Linked DNA regions of Homo sapiens: region 2 is linked to region 1. Evidence: fine-mapped expression QTL. A gene starts in region 1. The other region holds a variant in brackets. All regions are shown on one strand. Distances are from middle to middle.

What was found.
Region 2: its variant is fine-mapped to the expression of AP1M2 in whole blood (TOPMed, PIP 0.92).

Annotation. Positions count from the first base shown.
Region 1 is chr19:10,585,855-10,588,765 of GRCh38, reverse strand. AP1M2 (adaptor related protein complex 1 subunit mu 2) reads left to right here and starts at 1,454. Exons shown (of 12, transcript NM_005498.5): 1 at 1,454-1,576. The coding sequence starts at 1,535.
Region 2 is chr19:10,632,730-10,635,640 of GRCh38, reverse strand. It overlaps SLC44A2 (solute carrier family 44 member 2 (CTL2 blood group)), which reads right to left. Exons shown (of 22, transcript NM_020428.4): 11 at 754-885; 12 at 568-667; 13 at 386-478; 14 at 126-210. Among named protein-coding and RNA genes, the nearest start is that of SLC44A2, 8.6 kb to the right of the region's middle. The variant C/T (reference allele first, on the strand shown) is at 1,308.

The DNA of each region.
Region 1 (2,911 bases):
CTGTCTCTACAAAAAAAGTTTTTTGGCTGGGTGCGGTGGCTCACGCCTGTAATCTCAGCCCTTTGGGACGCTGAGGCGGGTGGATCACCTGAGGTCGGGAGTTCGAGACCAGCCTGGCCAACATGGTGAAACCCCATCTCTATTAAAAATACAAAATTAGCCAGGCGTGATGGCGCATACCTGTAATCCCAGCTACTTGGGAGGCTGAGGCAGCAGAATCCCTTGAACCCGGGAAGCGGAGGTTGTAGTGAGTAGAGATCATGCCACTGCACTCCAGCCTGGAGTCTAAAAAAAAAAAAAAATTAGCTGGGCATGGTGGCGCTTGCCTGTAATCCCAGCTACTAGGGGTGCTGAGGCAGGAGGATTGCTTGAACCTGGGAGGTGGAGGTTGCAGTGAGCCAAAATCATTCCACTGCACTCCAGCATGGGCAACAGAGTGAGACTCCATTTCAAAAAACAAAAAAAAATAAATTTTTTATTTGAAATGAATAAGAGTAAATTTGTAAGAATAATAAAAGCAAGTACATTTGTCCTGCTCGGAATTATATCCACAGTTCCTGTTACTGAGTGAATGAATATTTCAAATTCAGTCAGTAAAATTCACCAGTGAAAATTATTATATGAATGAGTGAATGAATGAATTGGGCAAATTTTGAGCACCCAGTGCTGAGCACTAGGGACATAAACATGAACAAGACAAAGTCCCTGCTGTATGGGGGCTGACGTGTGTGGGTGAGACAGAGGAGAAAGAAGGTGAATGGATGGATGAATCAATGAGAGGATGAATGAATGGATAGATGGGTGGATGAATGGATAGATGAATAAATTAATGAATGCAAGAATGGATGGATGGATGGATTGATGAATGGATAGATGAATAAATTAATGATGCAAGAATGGATGAACGGATGGATGGATGGATGGATAGATGAATAAATTGATGAATGTTAGAATGGATGAATGGATGGATGAATGGAAAGATGAATAAATGAATGAATGCAAGAAGGGATGAATGAATGGATGAATAAATGGATGGATGAATGGATAATGGATAGACGAACAAATAAATGAATGCAAAAATGGATGAAGAAATGGATGACGAATGGAAGGATGGATCAATGAATCGATGGAAGATGGATTAATGAATGGCTAAATGAGTGGATGCGTGGATGGATTAATGAATGCAAGAATGAATGGATGGATGGACGAATGGATGGATAGATGAATGAAAGGAAGGATGAATGAATGGATGGAAGGATGGTTGATTGGTTTGGGGTCTCCACCCGTCATTACTCCTGGGTGGCTAGGGAAAGTGAAGGGGGGCAGCAGACCCATCTGAAGTCGCAGTACCTCTCCCGGCCCCGCAGCCATCTTCAAGTTGGCCGACAGCGCTGCTCACCTGGCCGCCTCCCCTTTAAGACGCACACACCTGGGCTCTCACCTGGGCGCAGGCGCTTCCGCAGGAAGAAGGAAGCGGCGCCGCCATCGCCTCCCGGCGCTCCCTCCCCGACTCCTAAGTCCTTCGGCCGCCACCATGTCCGCCTCGGCTGTCTTCATTCTGGACGTTAAGGGCAAGGTGAGGCTGGGCATGAGGAGTTGGGAGACGGACAGGTGAGGTCTCGCTCCCAGGGATTCAGGGGCGACCCCTCCGCGCGGGCCAGGAAGAGGTCTGGGAACACCCCCTCCCCCTGCAATCCCTGGGAATCCCACCTCCAGCATCCACTCGCCTTGTGCCTGAGGCCAAGGGGTTCGCCTCCTAGGGCCTCAGTTTCTCTGTATGTAAAAATGGGAGCAACAGAGGTCCCCACCCAATGAGAATTAATACAACTCGCTGCGTGTAAACTACTTAGCATAGTGGCCTTTCTGGAAATATTAGGGACTCAGCAAATTGAAATTATCTCCATCACTGTCGGCATCCACAGTGTTAATACCTGGGGAAGGCAACTGGAACAGGGGCCTCTAACTCCCCCCATCTGTGGCTGCCTTGCCTCTTCCTGAAGTCCTTTTATTCCTCTTGTCTTTTTTTATTTTGGAGACAGGGTCTCTTGCTGTCTCCCAGGCTTGAGTGCAGTGGTGCGATCATAGCTCACTGCAGCCTGGAATTCCTGGGCTCAAGCGATCCTCCTGCCTCAGTCTCCGGAGTAGCTGTGACTACACAGGTGCAGGCCACCATGCCTGGCTAATTCTTGACATTTTTTTGTAGAGGGATCCCGCTATGTTGCCAAAGCTGCTCTCAAACTCCTGAATATCTGGGGCTGCGGGCTGACCCCTCCATGCCCGGCTATTTTTAATTTTTTTTTTTTTTTTTTTTTAAATAGAGTCTTGCTCTGTCACCCAGGCTGGAGTGCAGTGGCTCCATCTTGGCTCACTGCAACCTCCACCTCCCGGGTTGAAGCAATTCTCCTGCCTCAGCCTCCCGAGTAGCTGGGACTACAGGTGCATGCCACCATGCCTGGCTAATTTTTGTATTTTTTTTTTTTTTCAAGACAGAGTCTCGCCTTGTCACCCAGGCTGGAGTGCAATGGCATGATCTTGGCTCACTGCAACCTCCACCTCCCAGGTTCAAGTGATTCTCCTTCCTCAGCCTCCTGAGTAGCTGGGATTACAGGCGCGCACCATCACGCCCGGCTAATTTTTTGTATCTTTAGTAGAGATGGGGTTTCACCATGTTGGGCAGGATGGTCTCAATCTCTTGACCTCGTGATCCGCCCACCTCGGCCTCCCAAAGTGCTGGGATTACAGACATGAGCCACTGCGCCCGGCCGCACCCGGCCTATTTTTTATTTTTATTTTTTTGTACAGATGGAGTCTTGCTATGTTGTCCAGGATGGTCTTGAACTCCTGGTCCCCAGCTATCCCCCTGCTTCAGCCTCCCAAAGTGTTCGGATGACAGGTGTGAGCCACTGCAGTC
Region 2 (2,911 bases), 47 kb before region 1:
CACCTAGCACAGGACATGCAACAGGGGCCAATTGTTTGCTGAACCTCCAAGTGGACATGAGAGGTTTCAAATCATCTGGGGCCTGCTGGGGCAATACCTGCCCTCCCCACCCCGGGGACGCCCACCTCTGGGTTGCAGGTTTTCGCAGTAAATGGGCAGGGGCTGTCATCAAAGATCTTATAGACCGCTTCGTTGGAAGTGGACAGGAAGCTGGAGGTTCGTTAAGGAAGCAGAGGTCTAGGACTGAGGACCCCAGGGACTTTTGTGGGAAAGAATCCATTCTCCCACCAGTTTCCAGCCCTATCCCTAAGCTGCAGGTCACTTCTAGGCAAAGTTGGTCTTTAGCCATCCCTGGGGTCAGAGATCAGTGTCTGGGGGCAGATACACAGCAGTGCTGGCCCAGTAGGCGATGCAGAGGCACAGCAAGAAGAAGGTGACCAGTGGGTAGAGCAAGGAGCACATGACGTATCCCACAGCCCTAGGGAAGAGCAGAGACACAGGCGTCAGGGCAAAAGACACAACTCTAGGGACAGCTCCATCCTGGCCCCTGGCACCCTGGCCCCCCACCTGCTGGCTTCTTTGATGAGTGCAATCGCGATGAGAATTCTCTTCCGGAGAAAGATGAGCAGCAAGATGATAATGACTTCAAGGATACTCAGAATGATCACTGCAAAGGGCAAAGGCTGAGCCGGCTGGGCTCCCCACTCCCTCCAAGGCCTCATGTGGGGGCAGGAATGGGAGACTGTGACTCACTAAAGGCCAACCAGGTCTGCCGTAAGTGCAGGTACACCCGGAAATCCGTCTGAAAGCCGAGGTCCACCAAAGAGACATCAGAGCCGGCCTCACCACGCAGTCGGGAGTACTCCATGTAGCAGTGAAATATTCCTGCATGGGGGAACCACAAGCTCAGTCCAGCAGTGCCTCCTGCAACTTTGCAAAGCAGCTACAACTGCCCCCATTTAACAGAAGCAAACATCGAGGCTTCTGCCTCAGGGACTTTACACTTGCAGTTCCCACCGCCCGGTGCATTCTCTCCCCATGGCTGGATCCCACACATCCTTAGGTCTCTGCTCAAGTGTCACCTTCAGAAGAGAACTTCCAGAACCCTTTCCCCCTACTTGGAATCATAATCATATGCTGCCATGGTCTAAGTTCTCTCTCTTTTTTTTTTTTTTTGAGACGGAGTTTCACTCTTGTTGCCCAGGCTGGAGTTCAATGGCACAATCTCGGCTCACCGCAACCTCCACTTCACGGGTTCAAGCGATTCTCCTGCCTCAGCTTCCCGAGCAGCTGGGATTACAGGCATG[C/T]GCCACCATGCCCGGCTAATTTTGTATTTTTAATAGAGATGGGGTTGGCCGGGCGCGGTGGCTCACGCCTGTAATCCCAGCACTTTGGGAGGCCAAGACGGGTGGATCACGAGGTCAGGAGTTCGAGACCAGCCTGACCAACATGGTGAAACCCCGTGTCTACTAAAAATACAAAAAAAAAAAAAAAAAAAAAAAATTAGCTGGGCGTGGTGGTGGGCGCCAGTAATCTCAGCTACTCAGGAGACTGAGGTAGGAGAATTGCTTGAACCCGGGAGGCGGAGGTTGCAGTGAGCTGAGATCGCGCCACTGCACTCCAGCCTGGGCGACAGTGAGAGACTCTGTCTCAAAAAAAAAAAAAAATAGAGATGGGGTTTCTACATGTTGGTCAGGCTGGTCTCGAACTCCCAACCTCAGGTGATCCGCCCACCTCTGTCTCCCAAATTGCTGGGATTACAGGCGTGCGCCACCGCACCCAGCTAGAAACCACTATTAATATGAATATTTTACTATGAGTGTCCTCAAATTGGATTGCCAAGCATTTTTCTTCCAGGAAAGTTCAAGGAATAATCAAAATATGGGCCAGGCACAGTGGCTTGCGCCTGTAATCCCAACACTTAGGGAGGCCAAGGCGGGAGGACTGCTCAAGCTCAGGAGTTCAAGACTAGCCTGGGCCACATAGGGAGAACCTGTCTCTACAAAAATATTAAAAATTTAGCCAGGCATGATGGTGCTTGCCTGTGGTTTCAGCTACTTGGGAGGCCAAGACGGGAGGATCACTTGAGCCCAGGAGGTCAAGGCTGCAGTGAGCTGTGATTGTGCCACTGAACTCCAGCCTGGGTGACAGAGTGAGACTCTGTCTCAAAAAACAAATCAAGGCTGGGCGCGGTGGCTCACGTCTGTAATCCCAGCACTTTGGGAGGTCGAGGCAGGCAGATCACGAGGAAGTCGAGACCAGCCTGGCCAATATGGTAAAACCCCATCTCTACTAAAAATACAAAAAAAATTAGCCGGGCATGGTGGTGTGCGCCTGTAATCCCAGATACTCGGGAGGCGAGGTAGGAAAATTGCTTGAACCCGGGAGGCAGAGATTGCAGTGAGCCGAGACTGCACCACTGCACGCCAGCCTGGGTGACAAAGCAAGACTCCGTCTCAACAACAACAACAAAACAACAACTCAAAAACAACAAAAATCCAAAATATGAAGCACTGTTTTGTTGAGCACGATATTGTGCCTCTGGATTCCACAGGCCTGAACTAAACAGGCCCCTACCCATATTTTATCTGCTCATTACCTCCTTGTCATTTAGTTTGCCAACTAGAAATATGAATTACCCTCATTTTATAGAGAAATAAATTGAAGCAGTCCGGGCGCGGTGGCTCCTGCCTGTAATCCTAGCACTTTGGGAGGCTGAAGCGGGCAGATCTCCTGAGGCCAGGAGGTCGAGACCAGCCTGACCAACATGGAGAAACCCCATCTCTACTAAAAATACGAAATCAGCCGGGCATGGAGGTGCATGCCTGTAATCCCAGCTACTTGGGAGGCTGAGGCAGGAGAATAGCTTGGACCCAGGAGGCGGAGGTTGCAGTGAGCCAAGATCGCGCCA